2 separate regions of the Homo sapiens genome follow, and region 2 is linked to region 1. The links come from fine-mapping of genetic effects on gene expression. A gene starts in region 1. The other region holds a variant in brackets. All regions are shown on one strand. Distances are between the middles of the regions.

Evidence for each region.
Region 2: its variant is fine-mapped to the expression of DNAJC7 in pancreas (GTEx, PIP 0.98).

What each region holds. Positions count from the first base shown.
Region 1 is chr17:42,009,848-42,022,151 of GRCh38, forward strand. It overlaps DNAJC7 (DnaJ heat shock protein family (Hsp40) member C7), which reads right to left and starts at 7,592. Exons shown (of 14, transcript NM_003315.4): 1 at 7,493-7,592. The coding sequence starts at 7,569. It overlaps NKIRAS2 (NFKB inhibitor interacting Ras like 2), which reads left to right and starts at 10,243. Exons shown (of 4, transcript NM_017595.6): 1 at 10,243-10,357; 2 at 11,717-11,824. The coding sequence starts at 11,731. RefSeq lists enhancers at 1,094-1,623, 6,801-8,000, 7,111-7,160, 7,231-7,640 and silencers at 7,751-7,900, 10,127-10,536.
Region 2 is chr17:41,492,961-41,505,170 of GRCh38, forward strand. KRT13 (keratin 13) reads right to left here. Exons shown (of 8, transcript NM_153490.3): 1 at 12,096-12,210; 2 at 10,683-10,765; 3 at 10,327-10,483; 4 at 9,977-10,138; 5 at 9,727-9,852; 6 at 9,414-9,634; 7 at 8,759-8,784; 8 at 8,021-8,402. The coding sequence ends at 8,296. Among named protein-coding and RNA genes, the nearest start is that of KRT13, 6.5 kb to the right of the region's middle. The variant T/C (reference allele first, on the strand shown) is at 7,769.

The sequences.
Region 1 (12,304 bases):
GGAAAAGGCTGCTTTGCCCTGGCGCAGTGGCTCACGCCTGTAATCCCAGCACTTGGGAGGCCGAGGCGGGCAGATCCTGAGGTGATGAGATCAAGACCATCCTGGCCAACATGGTGAAACCCGTCTCTACTAAAAATATAAAAAATTAGCTGGGCATGGTGGCATGCAACTGTAGTCCCAGCTACTCAGGAGGCTGAGGCAGGAGGATAGCTTGAACCCAGGAAGCGGAGATTGCAGTGAGCCGAGATCGTGCCATTGCACACTCCAGCCTGGAGACACAGCAAGACTCCATCACAAAGAAAGAAAGAAAGAAAGAGACAGACAGAAAGAGAGAAAGAAAGAGGCTACTTCCTAGGCCGGGTGCAGTGGCTCACGCCTATAATCCCAGCACTTTGGGAGGCCAAGGCGGGTGGATCACCTGAGGTCGGGAGTTCGAGACCAGACTGACCAACATGGAGAAACCCTGTCTCTACAAAAAAAAAAAAAAATACAAAATTAGCCGGGCGTGGTGGCGCATGCCTGTAATTCCAGCTACTCAGGAAGCTGACTCAGGAGAATTGCTTGAACCCGGGAGGCGGAGGCTGCAGTGAGCCAAGATTGCGCCATTGCACTCCAGCCTGGGCAACAAGAATGAAACTCTGTCTCAAAAATATATATATATAAAGGCTGCTTCCTGAGTTTTTTTGGGTGGAGTGGGGTGGGGTGGAGATGGGAACTAGAGTGGGGAGGAGCCTGGATTGTCAACGGTATTTCACTTCTCAAAGTTGTCTTGGTTCCTTAGTTCAACAGGTGGTTAACTGTCTCAGGGCAAACTGTCCAAGGAAGAACTCTCAGGACAGAAACTCCAAAAACAAGAGAGGGTCCTGCTTGCCCCTCACACTCTCTCCAAAAGTAATATTAGAATCAAGAGAGATGGTTAACACTGCTTATCTGACAATCTGGCCTCCCCACACAAATTGTAAGTCACATGCCAATAGAATTTCACGTCTCAGAATAAGACCTGAGAGTCATATATTCCTCCTATTACCATTCTCAAAAGCCTCAACCACTCATATTCTTACCCATGGTGAGGGTAAAACATAGGAATTGCCATTTTGATCCGAATGGGAGAAGGAAAAACAGTGTCACTCCAATAAAATGAATAGCCTGTTAGGATAACTGCACTTTGAATTTTGTTCTTACTTCAAAAGTTTAAAAGAATACCTGGAAAGACCTCTGAGTAACTTCCACATCACTCAGTGCTGGAGAAAGGGGACCAAAGACTAGTGCAGTAAGGGAGAAATGGGCTCTCAGAGGGACTCTGCATCAGGCCACAAAGCAACTAGGCAACTGCTGACTATTGTTCTCCAAACTTCTAAAGTCCCGAAGAACAAAAAAGCAAGTGCCCAGTACTCAGCTTTTCAAAACCATTAAAATACAAACTTCAATGACTAAACTAATCCCTGATTGGCTGGAATGTACAATAAGGCTGGGCTTTCGGCCAATCAGAGTTCTGTTTGTTGGGAGTGGACTGGACTCTAAGCAACTGCCACTCACTTGGCCCTATATTTTCTCAAAATTCTTGTTTCTCTGGCACTAGTTAACATGTGGATCTGAACTAAAGCACTAAGAGAGAACCTTTCTCTGTACTCTACCTTTGCTCCAGTTATGATTATCTACTTTGCCATCTGTTAGTATCAGGGTTCAATTAATTTGCCGGTATTGAGAATTCTGTATTCCTAGGTTTATCCCTTCCTTAACTTATTTCTCCTCCCATCTCCCATTTCTTCACATCTGACTACACTTAGTGCACAGCAAAAGGAAAATAGTGTTTCTCACTGATTTGGGTTCCAGGTCAAAGATAAATTCCCACTCAGTTTGGAGGCTTACTGAAATGTCTAGGTGCTTGCTCTGAAACTTCAAGAGGAAGATTAGAAGGACACATTCCTAAGAATTTAAAACCAGGTAAGGAAGAAAGCTGGGGAGGCATGCCCACAAGCTCTTCAGTTAAGTGAGGCCACAAACTCAAAAACACCATGCAAAGCTGCAGCAAACGAACAGCAACTACAGGAAACCCGGGACATGAATTGAGAGTTCAGTTGTTCCCATTAACAATCTGAATAGAGAAATAAAAGGCAAAATCCTAATCGCAAAGAGTGTACAATACCTAGGTAGTAAGGGCCTAATAAGAATTGCTCTTATTTGTGCCCATCAGGAAAACATACAGAGAAGTTAAGTTTATCAGCTCAAGGAATCAGGTAAGGATGTCCTGACTCTTAAGTCTATGGATCCCTTGATTCTTTTAGATCTTGTTGTCCAGTCACACTAGGTATATGCTGAGACACGTAAGTGTTTTCTCTTTGAAAAACAATTTGAGGTTGGGTGTAGTGGCCCACGCCTGTAATCCCAGCACTTTGGGAGGACAAGGCGGGCGGATCATGAGGTTAAGAGATCGAGACCATCCTGGCCAACATGGTAAAACTCCGTCTCTATTAAAAATACAAAAATTAGCTGGGTGTGGTGGCACACGCCTATAGTCCCAGCTACTCGGGAGGCTGAGGCAGGAGAATCATTTGAACCCAGGAGGCGGAGTTTGCAGTGAGCTGAGATCACACCACTGCACTCCAGCCTGGTGACAGAGCGAGACTCCGTCAAAAAGAAAAGAAAACAATTTGAAATCCCTCAAGTTTACCATAAGAAAGACTCCCTATAGAGATCAAGCTGTTTCCCAGCCCAGGAGATATAACAAGAGATCCTTAATTCAAGACAGGTATTCCCATATTAGGTAAAGCAGTCAGCAACTTCCCAGGAAAATATAAAGCCTTAAGTTAGTTGAAATGTGAAACATCTGAAGTTTAACCCTCTGGCTCATAAATAGCTTTGCCTGTTTTGGTGAGCAAAGAGAAATAATCTTCATGCATAGAATCCTGATCTGTTTTGGAGTGCCAACTAATATATCTTTTATTTTAGCCCCAACCCTTTTTTTTGAGACAGGGTTTCACTCTGTCACCCAGGATGCAGTGCAGTGGTGTGATCGCAGCTCACTGCAGCCTCGACCTCCCCCAGCTCAGGTGATACTTACACCTCAGCGTCCCAAGTAGCAGGGCCTACAGGTATGCACCATCACACCCTGCTAATTTTTGTATTTTTTTTTTACAGAGATGGGGGGCGGGTTTCACCACGTTGCCCAGGTTGGTCTCGAACTCCTGGCCTCAAGCAATCCACTGGCCTCAGCCTCCCAAGGTGCTGGAATTACAGGCGTGAGCCACCGCACCCAGCCTTAAATGTTTTTATAGAGACTAAGTCTCACTATGTTGCCCAGGCTGGTCTCAAACTACTGGGCTTAAGCGATCCTCTCATTTTGGCCTCACAAAGTGCTAAGATTACAGGCATGAGCCACTAAGCCTAGCCTTATTTTAGTTTCTTGGCTGCTGTAAGGGAAACAGAACTTTGTCAGAGTGACATGCAAAAAAATTGAAATCCATCTCTTTTCTCTACAGAAACACTAAAGCTAAGGAAATAAAACATGTAGCCATTTAAAATGCTGCAATCGTGAAGTCCGTCTTAAAAGCTCCTCTCATTTTGCCCCCCTATGGGACTGTGACAACTTAGCAGCAGCAGGACATGTCTTAAGCCAAGACGTAAGGAAGGAAGGACTCCTTACAAAGCTGGACCTCACAAAAACGACCCGAGAGACTCATTAACTCTTGATCCCTAAATGAACTGGTAGGAGGACCATAACAACAGAGGCAGGAACTTGGCCAAAGAACTCTAACCAAGCCAGACAGTAAAAGGGCATTTGTAAGGGATGCCCCTATCACTGCCCTCTGCTATGGCCACACAAGAGGAATCCAGGACACATGAAAAACATAAAACCACCTCCCTCCAAAGCTTCTAAATCTCCATCCCATTTTCAGCACTGGAAAAATCATACATAAACAAGGCTTTTTCATACTAACAGAGCCTAATGTTTATTCTTTTTTTTGAGACAGAGTTTCACTCTTGTCGCCCAGGTTGGAGTGCAATGGCACGATCTCGGCTCACCGCAACCTCCGCCTACCGGATTCAAGTGATTCTCCTGCCTCAGCCTCCAAGTCGGTGGGGCTACAGGCATGCACCGCCATGCCTGGCTAATTTTTTTTTTCTATTTTTAGTAGAGATGGGGTTTCTCCATGTTGGTCAGGCTGGTCTCAAACTCCCGACCTCAGGTGATCAGCCTGCTTTAGCCTCCCAAAGTGCTGGGATTATAGGCATAAGCCACCGCGCCCGGCCAATGTTTATTCTTCTAAGGATGTCTGATATGGCAAAAAGTTAAACTGATTTTTTTGTTTATTTCACTTATTTTCCTTTTTTTTTTTTGAAATGGAGTCTCACCATGTCGCCCAGGCTGGAGTGCAATGGTGTGACCTTGGCTCACTGCAACCTCCGCCTCCCGGGTTCAAGCGACTCTCCTGCCTCAGACTCCCGAGTAGCTGGGATTACAGGTGCCCACCACTACGCCCAGCTATTTTTTCTATTTTTAGTAGAGATGGGGTTTCACCATGTTGGCCAGGCTGGTCTCAAACTCCTGACCTCGTGATCCGCCCACCTCAGCCTCCCAAAATGATGGGATTACAAGTGTGAGCCACTGCACCCAGCCAATTTTCCTTTTGATTTGTGCAAAAAAGTGGTATATAATAAATAACTATGTTTAAGTCTGTCGAAAACAGTGCTATATATGAGAAACATAAAAGTCTGATAAGAATGCATTTTTTTCTTTTTTTAATTGATTTTTTTTTTTTTGAGACGGAGTTTTGCTCTTGTTGCCCAGGCTGGAGTGCAATGGCATGATCTCCCCTCACCACAACCTCTGCCTCAGCCTCCTGACTAGCTGGGATTACAGCATCACCCCACCTGGCTAATTTTTGTATTTTTAGTAGATGGGGTTTCACCGTATTAGTCAGGCTGGTTTCGAACTCCTGACCTCAGGTAATCCACCCGCCTTGGCCTCCCAAAGTGCTGGGATTACAGGTGTGAGCCACCACGCCCAGTCTTTTTTCTTTTTTTAATTAATTTTTTTCTGTCACTATTTGAACTACAGGAATAATGCATGTTGTCATGTTTAATTTACAGTTACATTTTCTTAGTGACAGATAAAATAATTTGCATTCTGCAATCAATGACTTTTTTTTGAGATGGAATCTCACTTTGTCACCCAGGCTGGAGTGCAATGGCCCGATCTCAGCTCACTGCAACCTCCACCTCCTGAGTTCAAGCGATTCTCCTGCCTCAGCCTCCCGTGTAACTGGGATTACATGTGTGTGCCACCACGCCCCGCTAATTTTTGTATTTTTAGTAGAGACAGGGTTCTGCCATGTTGGCCATGCTGGTTTCAAACTCCCGACCTCAGCTGACCCACCTGCCTCGGCCTCCCAAAGTGCTGGGATTACAGGTGTGAGCTACTGCACCCAGCCTAATGACACTTAAATTCCATGAAATAAGGTAGTTTACCTTATTTTGTTGTACTGCTATCAAATACCATGTTTTGTGTGATGTGGTCACATTACAGCATAACCTATTTTATTATATGTCTTCAGGTTCATTTACTCCAATTTTATGATAGACTATCCTCTAAGGCTGTGATTGAAGAAATGTATTTGCTTAAGATAGGAGGCTATGAAATGAAGTCCAAAATAGGGACACTCTACATCAGAGATTTACAATGAGTAGGGTGAGTTTTTAAAATTACCTATGGCCAGCCCGGCACAGTAGCTCACGCCTGTAATCCCAGCACTTTGGGAGGCCGAGGTGGGCGGATCACGAGGTCAGGAGATCGAGACCATCGTGGCTAACAGGGTGAAACCCCATCTCTACTAAAAATACAAAAAAAAAACAACAATTAGCCGGATGTGGTGGTGGGCACGTGTAGTCCCAGCAACTGGTGAGGCTGAGGCAGGAGAATGGTGTGAACTCAGGAGGCGGAGCTTGCAGTGAGCTGAGGTCGCGCCACTACACTCCAGCCTGGGCGACAGAGCGAGATTCCGTCTCAAAAAATAAAAAATAAATAACCTGTGGCCAAATCCCTATTTACAGTATAAAGAACCACTGAACTCTTTCCAAATACAAGTAAATCTCTACAATTAATTTAAGCTCCGTCTGCACTGGGAGGAATTTTGTTTCCCATTGTGCAGCTCTTTAATGATGTATAAGGGTTGATGATGCTTAGCTTTAAATATCTAGGAAGAAGTAGGAACAACATGAAAGCTCAAAATTAAGAACAGAGACTGGACTCTGGTGTCCTGGCTTCTCTGATATCCCAGGGGCCTATTACACTTTGTCAGGCCCCTCAGCTCCCAGCAGATCAGGAACTTGAGATCTGGCTGTGGTAACCACCCTCAAGCTTGATAACTATTCATTGCGTCCGAGTACTTCTTATATTTCGAACTCATTAGATAGTAAAAATCTCAGAATCCTGATTTCAGATCTCATGAACTAATTCTACATCACCGCCTCAAATTACCCAGCCTGAAGACACAACGGGCTTGGTATGAAGATATAAAGTATGTTGCAAAGAGACTGAGGGCACTGTAGATATCTTGAACAAAAGGGTCAGACTAACCCGCAGCTGATAAGGAAAGGGCTCCAAACTTCTAGAACCTTCTTGTCAATTCTGCTTTAGGATTAGAACAAGTATGACTACCCACAACTCTGTTCCAACCCCACTTCCAATAATCTGGCCTAACTGTTGCCAGAATCTAGAGCGTTCTCGAAAACCACTCACTCAGCAGCTCCCTTGGCTAGTCCGACTGGCAATCTCGAACCACTGCGGCTGCTTCGGAGTGCCAACAGCGCCCAAGCAGTTGCCCTCTTCCTTGGTGCTTAACTTAAGAAAGAACAGTGCTGGGAAGGATAAAGATCACCCAGGAAGGACAGGGGAAGAGGAGTCTGACGTAGAGAACACGAGATAAGCCCCTCGCTCTTCCTTTTTTTCTCTGTCATCTTTGACTTCTGGGATAACCGGGGGCAACCAGGTCAATTATGGAGACACACAATCACTTCGAACCCAGACTAGTGATCGCTGGGGTATAATTACAAGGGAAAACGGGGTGAGGAGAGCAAAGGTTTTGGAGACGGAAAGTGCAGACAGGCAACAATGCACAGAAGTTAACAAGAGAACGCGGGGGTCGGGGGCGATGTAAGGAAGTCGTCATCGACGCCGCGCCGCTTCCCCCACCTCGCACCAGACCTCTGAAATTGCCCTCGGAGACTCGGCCTCTCCTATAAGGACGATCGTCCTCTCAGCTGGAGAACAAGGCCATGCCTCAGCTCCTACGCCAGGCGGAAGCGGGAGAGGAAGGCCGACCCCCAAGAGCGCCCCTTCAGGGGGTCCATCCGGCCTTGATCTCAGATGGGGGGGTGTTTGCGGAGGGCGGGGCATCGCCTCAACAGCTGGGGGCTGCATCATGGCAGGAACGAGTTTCCCTGAGCCACGGAGCTGCAGGTCGCCTCCTCTACTACCCTGCTACCCGGTTACCTCTTCGCCTCTTGGTCGTCGAGCAGCTCCGGCTCGGTCGCCGCCATTACCACATCGCACTCCGCGGCAGCCGCCATCTTACCGCCGGGACCAGAGAGCTGGGTGGGAGGCCGGCGGTGAAGAGCACTTCCGGTTGGAGCATAGAGCAGCTCCGCGGCGCCGCGCCCAGAAGGGCTCCCTCGGGCTCGTCTACCAGAGAGAGGCTCCGCTTGGGGCCAGAGCGGCCTCCCGCCCCCGGATGTCCACGGTGGTCTCCGCGCCGGGGCGGGAGCCCAGGGGCTGTGCCGGTGCGTAGGCGGCGCCACTTTACCCGTGGGTGGGAAGGCGGGGTGTACCGGTGGTAGCCTCTCTAGGGCTTGGCTGCTTTCAGTATTCCAAGAGCCTCATTGCCATAGCAACTTCCAATCCTAGAGAGTCTTCCTGAAAGGCTCCGTGGAGTCTGGGTTGCGTGGGGACCAGGTGACCCAAGACTCTGTAGGGAAGGAGTCCCCACTGCTACCTTTCCGACCTTGGAGTGTGTCCACAGCTTCTTCCCGGGAAAGTCAAGAGACACTTTGAGCTCAGTTCCCCCAGCTTTCATCGTTCTCTGGAAGCCCTGCCCAGTCAAGCCAGGGGAACGCAGGGCGTCTTCACCCTGCGCCTTTCATCCACTCCGGATCTCCAAACACCAACTGGTTCATCACCCTAATGACGCTGACCCTTTTACAAGGCTCCTTTCATGTCAGCCGCCTGGGAGTGCCATCTCAGCATTAAGCCTAGGAAAGCTGACACATGGCGCCCCAGACCCTGCCCTGGAGTTTATAAGGAAGCTCGCGGGGTGAGGTCCTTGCTCTTGTGTCCCCAGTACTCCCACCTCTTATATAAACTCTCTACTCATCACGCTTGCCTTGCCGAATGCGGTCTGGATTGAGAATTCATAGGGGACAAGGGCACAGTTTAACTGTCTTTGTTGTTATTCCCTCACCCAAACGACTATTTGTGGAGCTGAATTAAATTGGAGCTTTCTGGGGTTAAATTGGAGGAGTATGAGGAGTAGCTTTACAATGTAAAGCTAAGAGTAAAATAAGAAGAGGGCAAAGGAATTTTAAAAGGATTTACCTGTTTGTTCCAGGAAAACAGCATGTGCCAATGCTCATACTCTGCCTATCCCAGTGTGGAGGGAGCTGAAACCACAGCGACCACTGAGTAGGGAGGGATAGGACAAGCTCACTAGGTTGGAAAGGAGGGGTCATTCGTTGAGCCAATCACTCAGCCCTTTCCAAAACGCCTACTCTGTGCTAGGTTGTGAGGGCACAAGACTTACAGACCACCTGCCCTGCCTGCCAGTGGCTCATAGTCCAGTCTAATGCTAGCCAACCTGTCTCACCATCTTCCCACTTTATGTTCTATCTAAGGCAACTCATTTATTCCCACAGCTTTACTTCCATCTGTTGATGACTCTCAACTTTTCATATCTCCAACCTAGACCTTTCTTCAGCTTCCACAGCTGTATATCCAACTATCTACTGGATATCTCTTGTATGTTTCACAAATCCCCAAGGCTTACCATATTTAAATTTAACTTTTTCATTGTCTACCCACACCTCAACAACAGAAAAAACAAATGTTGGATGTAATTATTATCTTTCCTAAATTCCGTATCTTGTTAAATGGATTAAACCATTCTCACTCTTGGCTTCCAATTTGTTGCCAAGTTTTGTTGATTCTCCTACCAAATATTTCCCAAATCTATCTCCACCTTTCCATCCCGATTCAGGCGCTCATCATTTTTTAAAATCTTGGAATAGGCTGGGTGTGGTGGCATGCATCTGTAGTCCCAGCTATTTGGGAGGCTGAGGCAGGAGGATCACTTGAGCCCAGGAGTTAGAGGCTGCAGTGAGCTATGATCACACCAATGTACTCCAGCATGGAGAAAAGAGCAAGACCCTGTCTCAAAAACGGCAACAACAACAACAACAAAACAACAGAAAAAAAAACTTGGAATACATCAATAGTCTCCTAATCGGTCTCTAATTTCATCTCTGTTCAGTCTTCCCTCTTCTGCCAGAGTGACCTTCCTCAGGGACTGATCATGTCTCTTCATTGGCAATGGCTTTCCATTGCCGTCAATTTGATCTCTTTGGCCTACCACACAAAGCCTTTGATTATCTGTTTCTTTTTTTAAATAATTTAATTTGAGTACCAATATTTAGGTCCTTTCTACCACCAATATTGAACCCAAGTTCTCATAGTTTCAGAAAATGCCATGACTTGTAGCCGTTTCCTCCACCCTAGAACACCCTTTCCCCCAGGCCCTTCAGTGTCTGCTGACTCAACGTTAAATGCCCTTTTGCTGTGCTCCACAGCACCTCAGTAGTTGTTAGACATCTAGCTTCTCTAGACCGTGAGTTCTGATGGGCAGCCACCATGTCTAACTCGTCCACTTTCTCTCAGTATATGGCCCTGCACCAGGCACAGACAGATGATGCTCAGAAAACATTTGACGAATAAATGATTGAGTAAACGAAGAGTTACTGTACTCTGATCGCCTTTACAGAGAGAACATCTGGGCCTCAGAGACACCAGAACACCCAGCGGCCCGCGTCCAGGGAGTCTAGAACCTTGGGCTCCCGCGCACACCCAGGCCAGGTCCTGGCCGTCATTCTCCCGCCGGCCTCTGGGGGAGCTGCGCGGTCCGCGCTCTCTCTCCGCTGCCGGAATTCGTCTTGCCTGACGGAAGCTGGGGAGCGGGCAGGCGGCGGGGGCGGGGCCTGGAGGAGCCTACACCGACTCTGGAGGAAGACTGGAGCCTTTGCGGCGGCGCTGCCCCTCCCCTGGTCCCCGCGAGCTCGGAGGGCCCGGCTGGTGCTGCGGGGGCCCCGGGAGGTACGGACCTGGGAGGCGAGGCTCGTCCGGCGCTAGGATCGGCCTCCGCCTCCGGGCCGCTTTAGGTGGCTGGTCTCTGCCTCTCATTCCCTCTGGGGGCTCCCCCGTGAGAAAATCTGTGGCGGAGGCACCTCTGGCCCACTCTTATGGTGTCCTTTATTGTGGGGCTCGCTATATGGAGAGGGGGTCTGTGTCAGGAGCTTCCCCTGGAGAGGTTTCTGTTAGGGACCGTCTTTGGGAGTGATCTATCTCTGCTCTCTGGGGGGGATCTTTGTCTGGAGCTTTTGGGGGGCTTGTGTTTGGAAGTTTGCCTTCGGGGAGATATCTGTCTGGGACCTCTTAGGGTTTCTGTATCTGAGCTTTCTCTTTTGTGTCTGTCAGTCCAAGGGCAGCAAAAAGTATGTCCTTTCTGAAGCCTTTTTTTCCGTAGGTTTCTTCATTCTTTTCTCTCTTGTCTTATGTTCATTTTAGCCATAGACTTGACTGGAGTTTAGAGGGAATTGATTGTTGTCCAGATGAGTCGTACAGGAAAGCAGATTGTCTTTTTTTGAGACGGAGTCTTGCTCTGCCGCCCAGGCTGGAGTGCAGTGGCATATTCTTGGCTCACTGCAATCTCCGCCTCCTGGATTCAAGCGATTCTCCTGCCTCAGCCTCTCAAGTAGCTGGGATTACAGGCACCCGCCACCACGCCTGACTAATTTTTTGTATGTTTAGTAGAGATGAGGTTTCACTATGTTGGCCAGTCTGGTCTCGAACTCCTGACTTTGTGATCTGCCCACCTCGGCCTCCCGAAGTGCTGAGATTACAGGCGTGAGCCACCGTGCCCTGCCCCAGATTATCCTTTTTATTTGCTCAGTCCCCCCAGGGAGCAGATGGCTTCAGACAGCCACACAAAACACTGTTCCTGCTTAATTCTCCATGGGGTCATGGTTAAAGAGAGGAAGCTGGGCTGAGCTCCCTTTACTAATTGGTCCTCTACATCTTGCGCACAGAAGGGAACCTGGCCCAGTGGCCAGTGACTCTCCTCTCCCTTTATGGCAGCATTTCCAAGCACCTGCCCTGTGACAGATACTGGCTAGGTACTGGGGATAACAAAGACGAATAAAATAACAGCTTACCATCCAGTAGTAGACATGGAGACATCCGTTTCCTCTGACTAGCATTGGGATGGTGCTGAAACCCTGGAACTATACATTCAGTTTAGAACTATACATTCAGTTTAGAACTCTCAGTTATGGACGTTCTGCCTTCTGTTTTTTTGGTTTTTGTTTTTGTCCACCAGAAAACATCTGCTAGTAACTGCCTTCTGTGTTGATGCTTTCTTTCCTCACCTTACCCAGCGTGCTTCTGTTCTTCAAGGTTGAAAACTAAGCATGGGGAAGAGCTGCAAGGTGGTCGTGTGTGGCCAGGCGTCTGTGGGCAAAACTTCAATCCTGGAGCAGCTTCTGTATGGGAACCATGTAGTGGGTGAGTGTTGTTGGAGGGGGAGGAACAGTGGAAGAAGTTGAAAAATAAGGAATAGGACTTGATCACAACACACACAGGCTAAAAGCTGCTCCTGGTGGTTTTCCCCCCTGGAAGAATAAAACTTACATTGTAACAGATCAACTCTACAACACTGAACAAATACGGAGGGAGAAAGCCCTATGTCCAAGATAGGAAAGAGAAGCTGTCATGTCACACTTGTGCTTAGCATGGAATTAGCATAAAATTAATGTCCATTGGCCGGGTGCGGTGGATCACGCCTGTAATCCGAGCACTTTGGGAGGCTGAGGCGGGTGGATCACCTCAGGTCGGGAGTTCGAGACCAGCCTAACGAACTTGGAGAAACCCTGTCTCTACTAAAAATACAAAATTAGCCGGGTGTGGTGGCACATGCCTGTAATCCCAGCTATTCGGGAGGCCGAGGCAGGAGAATCGCTTGAACTCGGGAGGTGGAGGTTGCGG
Region 2 (12,210 bases), 520 kb before region 1:
CCCAGCTTGGGGGCAGGAGGAAGAAGGGGAATGCCGCCATAGGAACAGAAAGCATCCTGGCCTTTCCCCACGCCCATCTTGGAAGGCTGCCAAGTTCAACATCAACTCCTGAGTTTCTGGCCCCTTCTTTGGCAGAAAGAAGTCTGCACACTCAAATGAACTTCCATCTGAAAACCAAGGTTCTCCATGGGCAAAGGCCTGAAATATCAAGCCCAAGTCTCCTTCTGCCCAGCTCTGAACAGTCCCTTCCATGCACAAGGCATTGCTGTCACAGTGTGCCCAAGGAGGGAGTGAGTTCTTCAAGCAGGGTGTCTCTTTTTATGCTTCTCTGGGCTTTGGTCAGAACATGCTGGTCACCACTACCCAAAGGCCCCAAAGATAGTGAAGCAAACAAACCAGACAGCAGCCTCTGGGATGGCCAGGCCAACCAGAAATGGGCACAGACAAGAATAAGATCTCTGCAGAAGGCCAATGGTTGTCTCTGTTAGAGCAGCCTGCTGGTTTCAGCTCCATCTTTCTGGTTTTCTCCTACTGCCTCTTCCACCCTTGAGGTCCATACACCCAGATCCTAGAGAATTTCCCACCAGAAGAAGCACCTAAGAAATGTTCATTCCATGTTTTAACCTCTTCAGATCCACCCAGCACCCAACGGTCACCCAGGACCCTGGGAGACCCACAACTCATTCTCATTTCCTCCACATGACTAAATTTTCCTTGGAACGAAGAATGTGTTCAAGTGACAAAGCACCTGGGAGCCCTGGCCCCTCCCCTGAAAAGCAGGGTTCTATATATTCTGTGTCAAATAACCCCATCAACAGCTCATGCCAAATCCACTGTCAACTTACATTAGATTCTAGTGCCGACATGCAACAACAGGTACACAAAGTTGAAGAAAGCCTCACAGAAAGGGGAAACCCTACAATTAAGCCCTTTCTAGCCACCAATGTAATTTTTCCAAAAACTCCAGGAAAAGTCTCGTTTATTCAGTTTTGTTTTTGTTTTTGTTTTTGTTTTTGTTTTTTGAGACAGAGTCTTGCTCTGTCACCCAGGCTGGAGTGCACTGGCAAGATCTCGGCTCACTGCAAGCTCCGCCTTCTGGGTTCACACCATTCTCCTGCCTCTCAGCCTCCCGAGTAGCTGGGAGTACAGGTGCCCGCCACTACGCCTGTCTAATTTTTTGTATTAGAGAGGGGTTTCACCTTGTTGGCCAGGCTGGTCTCAAACTCCTGAGCTTGTGATCCACCCGCCTCGGCCTCCCAAAGTGCTGGGATTACAGGCGTGAGCCACCGTGCCTGGCTGTTTATTCAGTTTTGATGGTGGAAAACTCAGGGCCATTCACAGACCTGATAAAGAAAGGGTTGCCAGATTTAGCAAATTTTTTAAATGTGGTATTAGGAGCATACTTATAGGGTGTGTGTGTGTGTCTGTGTTGTTGTTGTTGTTGTTGTTTGTTTACCTGCAATTCTGATCTGAGTGTCCTGTGTCTGAAACCCTCAGTAAGGAAACATCACTGGTTGAGAGCCTTGGCCACACAAATGCAGCTCTTTCTTCCCTCCTTCCCTGATGGCCTGTCACCATGGCTGGCTGTTCTCAGGGTCAGACACAGAGGGCTTCCCTTGGAGAATCGTGCCTTCCTGTCCTCTCACACCCTGCTGTCAGTGGCTGTCATTCTTGCCCTCCCAAGTCCAAACAGTACTTGGAGATGCAGAAGCTGAATTATCCTGCCTCCCATCCTGGCCACCTCAGTGACATTCCATCCTGATGGCAGCTGCCTTCAACAGGGTGACTCAGACCTTCCTGGACAAGATTTAGCAAGTCTCTCTCTGCTCCATTTCCCACCCCCCAGCTTGTGCCCCAAATGTCCACCTGCCCCCTGCTATCACCCGGCCTCACCAGGTTCAAGACAATCTGAACATGACTCAGTGGTGAAGGAGGTCCCCCCCACTGCCTGGCTGCCCCTCCACAGTGTTGGTCCTGGTCCTGAGCAGTGACTCCTCCTGAGACTCTGGGGCCCTACAAGGAGCATAGGTCCAGCTTCCCAACCTGCTGTTCCTGGCCTGTTCCTGAGCCCCCATCAGGCCTTGACCTTCATCGGGCCTTCAAAGTCCCACTTGACCAGGCCCGGAGTTACTCTAGAAATCTCATCTCCCCCAAAATACAAAAGTATTTTCTCTCCCCCTGGGGTGTGGTTTTTGCACTTGCCCAGGACTTCAAGGTTCTGCTCCAAGCTGCTTTTGCCGTGGCAGATGCCCAGAGAGCCACCCTAACTCCAGCCTTAAGCCATACCTCTCTGGTCCTCTTGTGGCCAAGCTCGGCCTTCCACATCTCAGGGCCCACCACCTTCTCCCCTGGGGCCAGCGCTCCCTGCACAGCTGCACTGGCTGCCAGCTCCCATCTGGAAGAGTCCACAGTCTCCTGCTCAGACTCACCGAGTCCCTAACTCCCCCACCCCACTTTTATGGTTGGAGCATTTCAGAGCGTCCTTTCTCTCCTTGGTGTGCTTGAAGAAGCTGTGATTGTGGGAGATGCACAGCCAGGCCCACTGGGAGAAAAGAGCTGGTACCTCAGTGTCTAGCGTCCCCTTGATTCAAGTATCACTTAGCTGAACCATAAAGCGAATTTTCCAAACACCCTGTTTGATTGGACTTGTAGTCTGCATTTACAGGGGCCGGCATGCAATTGATTTGACTCTCTTCCTACGAACAACAGCGTGTCTGCAAACCAGACTGCGGGCTCCGGGCTGTAATTAACCATGCCTGACACTGTGGATTTTACTTTCAAACTGGTCTGAGATCCTTGGATGAAAGAAGCCACAGTCATTATGACTGTTCATAAAAAGGGATACCAGCTCTTGGCCAAGTCCCCCAAATACCCACCCCCAACAGGTGCCTGTGCAAGTCTCAGCAGCACCCGCCACCTGCTTATTTTCTTTCAAACTCTGCAGGAGGATGGAGGGTGTAAAGAGTGCCCAGCTCTTTTGAAGCCCCCAGAGGAGCTGCTCAAAGGGACACAACCCACATATTCTGCTCTGCTCCAGCCACCAACAGTCCCAGGGACACCATCCAAAAGAGGCCAGTTCCCTGGGCCGCCCCTCAGATGCCCTGACCCAGGCAGGGAGGAAGGAAGGGCCCCCACAGCTGGATAAGAAAAGCTGGAAGTGGCCAGGCGCAGTGGCTCACATCTGTAATCCCAGCACTCTGAGAGGCGGAGGCAGGTGGATCACCTGAGGTCAGGAGTTAGAGACCAACCTGGCCAACATGGTGAAACCCTGTCTCTACTAAAAATACAAAAATTAGCTGAGTGTGGTTGTGCATGTCTGTAATTCCAGCTACTTGGGAGGCTGAGGCAGAAGAATTGCTTGAACCCAGGAGGCAGAGGTTGCAGTGAGCAGAGATCATGCCCCTGCACTCCAGCCTGGGTGACAGAGCAAGACTCTTTCTCAAAAAAAAAAAGAAAAAAAATCTGGAAGAGTCCATCACACCCATCGCCCTGCACCTCCTGCTGTGACTTTGCTTCCTAATCTTCCCCAGAGCTTCCCTTGGCTGGGACAGTGAGAGTCCCCTGCCAGGAAGGCCCAGACACCCCATCTCATACTCAGGATCTTCTATGGATCCTCAAAGCTATCACCCAACACAGAGGGGGAGCAGGCGCCAAGGGGGTCTCAGGCCTGGAATGTGCCTGCAGCCACACCCTGCCTGTCAAGGGTCTTCTGTGGATCCTCAAAACTATCACCCAACACAGAGGGGAACAGGCGCCAAGGGGGTCTCAGGCCTGGAATGTGCCTGCAGCCACACCCTGCTTGTTAAGGGCCCAGCTGGGGACCGGACGGGGCCCTATGTTGAGACCAGGCCCGGCCAGGACTGGGTCTAGGGCCCAGCCACTCCACCCTGTATCCCAGCAGGTGGCCATTGAGGCACTGATCTGCTTTCTGGGGTGAGCCTGCCCCCTGCAGGGCCTGGGCAGGACAGCCATCGCATTGAGGAGGGCAGCAGCCTGGCTCATTCCCCAGGGTGGAGCCAGGAAGAGAGGGAGGTGCCTATTGCTTGGGGTGAGGAGGAAGTGGCTGAAGCACCAGGAGTCACAGAACAGCGCCACGTCTCTCCACCTCTGTGTGCCACCCGCTGCCCTCCTCCCTCCAGAACCCGACCTGGCTCTGAGGTGCCAAGACACCCCAGGAACATCACAGGCTTGATTCCTTCATCCCCTAGGCTTTGGGGTCTGGGAGAGAGCCTCACTTCTCCCCCAGATTCCTGGAGCCGAATGCTTGACCCTTGGCAAAGGACCAGCCCCAGTCTTGGAAAGCACATTGGAACCACAGGTCCCAGCTCTCCCGCTGGGCAGGTCTTTGACCCCGTCCAGACCTCAGTCTTTCCATGTGTAAAATGGGCACAGCTGTGCCAATTCATGGGATTGCTGTAAAGATGAAATGAAAGAAAGGATGAGAGTAAAGGATGCGCTACTGTGTCCCCCTTTCCGTTATCTCTTTCATTCCGGCATCTCTTGTGCTGACATGGCCTCATTCACAATCATTGGCATGGACATTAGCCAGGTGCCAATGGAAAGGGGCTGTTTCCTCATAGCCACAGCACTGGGAATCAGCGGTGTGAGACTGGCATGGGCGTGGCACCTAGGTCAACCCTGGGAAGGGGAGCATTGACCCAGCAGGCCTGATAAATCTGCCCTCACTTGAATGGCCGCCCCACACCTGATAAAGAGTTGAGTCCCAGAGAGAATGAGGCGGATTCCCCACCCACTGCCTCTCCTACCCTTCTGACCAGAGAGCCGGGATGACCACCTGCTACTCCCAACTCAAGAAGGCTCCTGGGGTAGCTTTGGCAGAAACACCTGCTCTCGGCCTGCCCTCTGAGCTTCCCCGGGATTCCTGATGGGGCCACATAGGTCCTCAGATGGGGCCCAGCTTCTCAGTGTCCTTGCTGGGGTCTGGGTGAAAGGCTCCCAGGCCAGAGTCCCCACTGGGCCTAGAGTGCAGCTCATTTCACTGCTCCTGTGGGCAACTACCCTCACCCCCCACCAAGTTTTGCAAAACTAGCTCAGAGAATGAGGGGGCTGCCCCTAAACAGCCATGCCCGGGGTCTCAGGAAGAGGGGCTGCTCTGGGCCCCATAAGCCCTGGGATCTGGACCCCAGGGTGCCTTGGAGCAGCCAGGGTAGCTCAGCATTGAGACCCCAGGCCCCTCTCTCAGTCTAGGGTAGGGGCTCCTGTGCTCTCTGTACAATACTTACTTACCACTTTCATTTCCCATAGCTTGTATCTATTTATTCCCTCATTTCTCCATTCAACACATTTATTGAGCCCTTATAACGTTCTAGGTATGAGGATGAGACTGACGATGAAACCAGCCCTACCCAGAAGGAACGCATAGCTTAGAAAAGAGAACGAGAAAGATCATGACCAGAGGTATCTTGTTTACTGAGCACTTACTATGCACCAGTGACTGTTCTGAGCACTTGACTTTAATTAACCTATGAGGAAGGAAGACTTAGCAGATGAGGAAGTCAGGCCAGGAAGGTTAAGTAACTTGCCCAGGATTACAAATGCAGATCAGGTCCCTGTGGCTCTGGGCTCCACAAACATTGCACTCCAGTCATTGCTGACAGCACAGGGTCTTGCTGGGATCGGTGGGGAAGACCAGAGAAGACCCAGAGCAAACGATGAAACCTGAGCAGAGTTGTGAAGACTGTTGACTGTTCATTGCTGTGGGTGTCTCCTCCTACCTTCCTGTTAACCCGTGGACTCCTTGAAGACAGAGCCTTCTTTTCATCTGCCTCTCTTTCTCCAGGACCCCACACAGTGCTTGGTACACAGTGGTCACTCAATAGATAGCTGCTGACCAAATAGGTTACCAAAAACGTTAAAAGGTGCCGGGAGCAAGGGCATGTCCTGTTTCTCTTTAATGCCTTAGCTCCTCTGGTGCTGTTCCAGGCACGTGAACTTGAGCCGAGCCCCACCTTGTTCTGTAGGAACAAGTGGGTGGCGGGGTCTGGGGTGGGATTTGGAATGGTGGAGGGTAGACACCTTTCTGCTAGTTTAGCAAGCTGGGCCAGGCATGTCTGAGCAACCACTGTGTGAATAAGACAACTGTGTGCAGCCCATACTCAGGCTTGAGGTGGGGGAAGAGAAGGAAGACAAGGAAGGGGGAGACCACACAGGGGAGCAGCAGAGGGGAGGGGAGGGAATATGAAGATGGTGCCAGAGGAAGGGGGCAGATGGCCAGGGTGCCGGAACTCCATCTACCCTCTGCCTTAAGCCCCTTAACGAAAATCAAATGGCACTGGAGGGGCATTTCCCCAGTTTGTTCATTCACCTCTGCCTTTCATCAGCACTGACAGAGCCCACCTGCACTCTATTGGATGAGAGACCCCCCCCCCCCCGCCCGCTTTGAGGAAGGCACAGCCCTGCCTTTCTCACTGTCACTTCAGTGACACTTCAGCGATACTGTCAGTTCTAGGACAGGTGGGCACACACATGTGAACACCCAAGTGTGCCCCACCCCAGCCAGGTGCTGCAGAGGAGGGGGCATCCATCTCAGTCTGAATTTTGAATAAAAAACTGGTAGTCTCCAATAAAATGATGACAGGAGTGTGGAGAGAGAGGAGAGAAGAAGGTTGGGTCAGACAGAGGTCTGTCACCGAACAAAATCCCCAGGGTGCCCAGCCACCTGCCTGCTTCCTCAAGGGCAGTTTGGGATGGCAGGAATTTGGGGTGAGTGAGGGAGGCTAGTGTAGGAGCCAGAGCTGGGGAGAGGCCAGAAGAAGCTGCACCACCAGGACCTGGAGGCAGGCGAGGTGTCTAGGCTTTCCTCAGTGACCAGCAGGGAGCGATTGGGGTGTCTCTAAGCTGAGAAGAAGACTCAGTTTCCAGTAATCACCCCTGCTGGAGTGTGGAGCATGGAGGCAGGGAGGCCAGTGAGGAGGCTGTGGCCACGTGCCCATAGTTAGGACCAGGAAGGACATTATGGCTAATGCAGTGTCCACGGGAAGCATTGTGAAGGGGGTGAGGGACAGAGGAGGCCAGGATGACTCCTGGGCTCCTGGCTCAGCTTTCCAGGTTCTCCGGGATAAAGGGCAAGGAAGGAGCAGATCTGGGAGGATGATGGGAGCTCTTTTGCCTGGGTGGATTGAAGGAGGTGATGTCTGGCTCACTGTTGGCAATGGGAGTCTGAGGCTGGGAGGGGCCTCAGTGGAGATTCGAGTTTGGGCGTTATCAGAACATACAGGCAACTGTAACCATGGTTATGTCCTGGATGACCCACAGGGACAGTGAAGAGGAAAAAGAGAAGAACACCCACACCGGAATCCAGGAGGTGAGTCAACGTGCAAGGAGTGAGCAGAGCAGGAAGAGGTTGCGAATCAGAGCAGGGGCAGCCAAAGCGGCAGGGAGAGAGTGGGGAGCACAGAGAGAAGGGGCCAGGTTAGTGCAGCGGCCAGCCAGGGAGCTGGTCCCAGGAGTGGTTGGGAGTGGCAAGACCTAGGGGTGGGCTGGGGAGGACATTAGGAGTGGATGCCTCAGGCCAACAAGGAGCCATTTGCCTGAGAATAAACCTCTCTGCAGGAAGCAGGGAGGTGGCAGGTGGGGGCTGGGCCTCCTTCTCCCCAGATCACCCCTTCACTGGCCCCTTGCAGCCTGCCCCAGAGGCATCTGTACTTTTTGCCCATGTTTCACGCTCCCTTGACTCTACTATCAGCTGCCATTCTCACTGAACATCCTAATCTGCAAGGCTGTTGAACTGGCTCACGTGCCCCTGCGC[T/C]GTCTCTGGTGTGTTCCGTCTGTCCATGTCTGCTGGACACCATCGTCTGTGAGCTGCCTGTGTCCCCTGTGTTTGCCGTTGTTGTGTCTGTGTGCTCAGATGGCCCATGGGCCTATGTCTGTCCTTCCTAGATAGGAAGCTCCCCAGGCTTGTCGTTGTCTGGATTAGCTACTCCGCCCAGCTGTGTCCCCCTCACCCGCTAAACCAGGGCCCTAGCAGGGGCCACCTAAGAAACCAGGCCAGAATCAAAAATATGTTTGCAGAAAGGCAGGAAACTTTATTGAATAATCTTTTCTTTGGGGTAGAGAAGTTGAGAAACCAAAGCGTATCCAGGTCAGAGAGGAGAGAGATCCGACCGGAAGAGAAGAGCACAGAGGGCCCACCATCAGGAGAGAGTCAGGACAGGGGGTCCTGAGAGCAGAGGGACTGAGCCTTGGGTCCAGCAGCCCCTCCTCTCTCCTGCAGGGAACTGCCGGCTCTCTCCTCCTCTGGGTGCTGAAGACAGAGGGAGGGGACGCCAGGCAGATTTAAGGCCTACGGACATCAGAAGTGCGGCGACCAGAGGCATTAGAGGTGGTGGTAACAGAGGCACTAGAAGTCGTGGTAACAGAGGTGCTACGGGGGCTGACGCTTCCTGGGAAACAAGAGACAAGACATGCTCAGGCTGGAGAAGACCCACCTCAGGACAGGGCAGGGCCCCCCTGGAGGGCTCACAAACTCCTCATTAGTCAGGTGGTGCGTGGATGGAGACTCTTTATTGTCCCCAAAGATGGCTCTTCCCAAGACAGCCAAATAGCTCTGTGGGGCAGAGCCATCAGTTTCAAAAGGAAAATCAGTGAGCGAATGACCACTTCCACCCCAGCTCTCCCCCTCCCTACACTGGAGAGCCCAGCACTGGCTCCCTCCCTCCCCGCCAGCTCCCACCCCCATTGGGGCAGTGAATGGGAGGCTAACTCTGCCTCCCCCTACACCACGGGGCTGTTCCCTTACCTGCTGAGGAAGGGAAACCAATCATCCTGGGAGAGAGGACAGAGGTGGCCATGAGCAGAGGGTAACTGAGGGCAGGTGCTTACCTGTTCCTCTGGGGAAGTGCCTCGGCTTATCATTTCAAGCCCCTGGGCTGGACTCTAGTGCCTCCTAGCTGTGCCCCCAGCTCAAGGGACAGCAGCATCAGGTGCCCACTGGGACTGTCTGTCTTTCCTGTCTGTCTGTCTGAGAGGTCTCAAGGGGAGATATTATTAGCCACAAGATTCAGGGTGTTTGTCTTCCCTCTGGATCGCCCAAACCCGCAACCCTCCACCTGAGCCCTGAGCCCACAGGGGTGGCTTGATTTCTGCAAAGGGTCTAAAGGCAGTTAAAGCACCATAGTAATAGCTTTGTTCAGCTGAGCTGTATCCAAGCTCATGTTTTTCCAATATCAGATGTTCCCTCCATGGTCTCTGTTCCCTCCAGTCTAACTTGGAGGCCCAAATTAGAAAGTTTAAAGGTGTTAACCCTGCAGCCTACCAAGGAAATGTCCCCGTAAAGTCAGACAGTGAGGGGTCTCCTCTCTGACATGAGGGGGTGGATCTCTAAGGCCCTGCCTGCTCTGACACCCACGGGTCCTGCAGTCACTATCCTAAGAAAGAGGCTGGAGAGGACCTACTTGGCGTCCTGGCCCTCGAGCAGGCTGCGGTAGGTGGCGATCTCCTGCTCCAGACGTGTCTTGATGTCCAGCAGCATCTTGTACTCTTGGTTCTGGCACTCCATCTCACTGCGGAGCTCGCTCAGCTGGGCCTCGATGCTGCTGATGAGTCCCTGGATCTGCTGCAGCTGCAGGGCATAGCGGCACTCCGTCTCTGCCACCGTGTTCTCCAGCCCCGCTTTCTGGTGGAGCGACAGACAAGAAGTTACAGAGGGAGCCAGGCCAGAGGGAAACCTAGAGGTGGTCGCCACCGGGCAGGAGGCTGCAGGCATACCATGCTCAGCTGGGACTGCAGCTCAATCTCCAGGCCTTGGAGCGTGCGCCTGAGCTCCGTGATCTCTGTCTTGCTGGTCTGAATCATGGCAGTGTTGGTAGACACCTCCTTGTTCAGCTCTGCACTCTGAAATGCAAGCAGGAAGAAGGTGGTGGGGAAGCTCAGCTCGAGCAGCCTGACCAAGAGGCTGTGTCCGCCCGGCCCCCCTGGCTATATGGGATGGGCTATGTGGGGTGGGAGGGCCGGGTACCTTGGTGTGGAACCATTCCTCAGCATCCCGGCGGTTCCTCTCTGCCATGGCCTCGTACTGCTCCCTCATCTCTGCCAGCACGCGGGTCAGGTCAATGCCTGGGGTGGCATCCATCTCCACGTTGACCTGGCCGACCACCTGGTTGCTAAATTCCTTCATCTCCTGTGGGGATGGGAAAGGAAGATGTGTGAGGCTACTCATCCTCCCTCTCCTTGGCTCTGAGTGCTGGCAGAGTGTTCTGGAGAGTGTTTCCAGGTCCCACAGTGGAGGACTGTGTCCAGTTGCAGGGGAGGGCTCCTCCTTCTCACTGGAGGTTGTTGAGCCCAGGGCAGCCTGCAATTCCCGCTCACCTCTTCATGGTTCTTCTTCATGTAGGCTAGCTCTTCATTCAGGCTCTCGATCTGCATCTCCAGGTCAGTCTTAGACAGAGTGAGCTCATCCAGCACCCGGCGCAGGCCGTTGATGTCGGCCTCCACGCTCTGGCGCAGGGCCAGCTCATTCTCATACCTAAAATAGTAAAAAAATGAAATGTTTTTTGAAAAAGCAAGACATAAATGATATGAGACATTCTCCCTACCCCTGCACGAGACTCCAGTACTTCCAGACCTTCACTCCTGGGATGCTCCAGTGTCATTGGTCAGATGAGCTTTTGTCTAAACTAAGAGACTCCTGGGAAAGGAGAGGGAGGGGGAAAAAAAAAACTCACTTGAGCCTGAAGTCGTCCGCAGCCAGCCTGGCATTGTCAATCTCCAGGATGACCCGGTTGTTTTCAATGGTGGCGGTCAGGATCTACAAAATGCAGAAGAAGGTAACCTCTAGGGCATGGGTGTCCAGTCTGTTGGCTTCCCTGGGCCACATTGGAAGAAGAATTGTCTTGGGCAACACATCAAATACGCTAACACTAACGATAGCTGATGGGCTAAAAAGAAATTGGCAAAAATAAAAAATAAAAAAAAACTCAATGTTTTAAGAAAGCTTACAAATTTGTGTTAGGCCTCAATCAAAGCTGTCCTGGGCCACATGCAGCCCACCGGCCACAGGTTAGACAAGCTTGCTCTGGGGGGTCCACGTGCTTGAGGAGGTGGCCTGGGAAAACATGGGCAGGACCTGGTTCCCATGGGGCTCTACCTCTAAACTGTCCTGTGAGCTGGGACAAGGCATTTCCCTCTGGGCCTCCATTGCTCTTCTGTAAAGTGAGGAGTGGGGCTGCATCCCCTCCAATCGTTTCTAACACTTTAATATTCCATGTCTGAGCACCCTGGGGGAGATGCAGGGAGTGCATTTCTGAGGAACGACCTGCTGAGAACATCTTTGGTTCGTCATGTCTTGGCAGCCTCAGACTAGCACCCTCCCTAGGCCACTGTCTTGAGATCCATCCCCTGAAAGTCAGGAGGGACTCGGCTTGGTGCCACATATCTCACAATCACTTTGCTAGAGCTGACTTCCCAGCTGAGTGGAGGGGAAATCCAACAAATATTCCCATCCCTTTGAATTTCTTGTCTAAACGTTTATATTCCAAAGCAGTGAAAGCCTGCTCCACATGGCTGAGACTCAGCCCAGGCTGGTAGATTTCTGCTCCAACAGGCTGGTATCACAGCACAACAGACAGGGCTCAACAAAGGGCACCCAGGCTCGGCACTGCCTAAGCCTCTGCCTCTCTCTCCCCCAACTTGGCCATCGCCAGTTGAGAATACCAGTTTGAATGGGTCCCCTACAAAGTAAACAATTATTCCCAGGGCAATGAATGAACACGTCTCTCTTTCTCTGTTGATTTCATGCATTCTTAATGGCTTTTAAACCTGTCATGTTTCCAGATAACTCAGTAGGTTAGGATTATAGAGATCGAGTCATGAATAACATAACTGTCTGGAAAGCAGTAAAAAAACTGACCTGAGTAATAACAATCATAAAAATGAATAATGAGAGAAAATGCATTTGGGGAGTTGTGGCATGAGAAAGCCCATCAGAGGTAGAGACTCTTGGTAGTCAAACAGTAGGCTTTTCCCCTGCAAGAAGTTTGTGAATTCCGTCCACACCTAGTCCCCCACAACACTGTGTTTCTTGGCCTTGGAGGCTCTGCCCTTCATGGAGGACCCCTCCTCAGCTTCCAAGGGCTCACCTTGTCCCGGAGCTCTTCAATGGTCTTGTAGTAGGGGCTGTAGTCCCGCTCAGGGCTAGCTGGGCTCTGCTTCAGGTGCCAGTCACGGATCTTCACCTCCAGGTCAGCGTTGGCC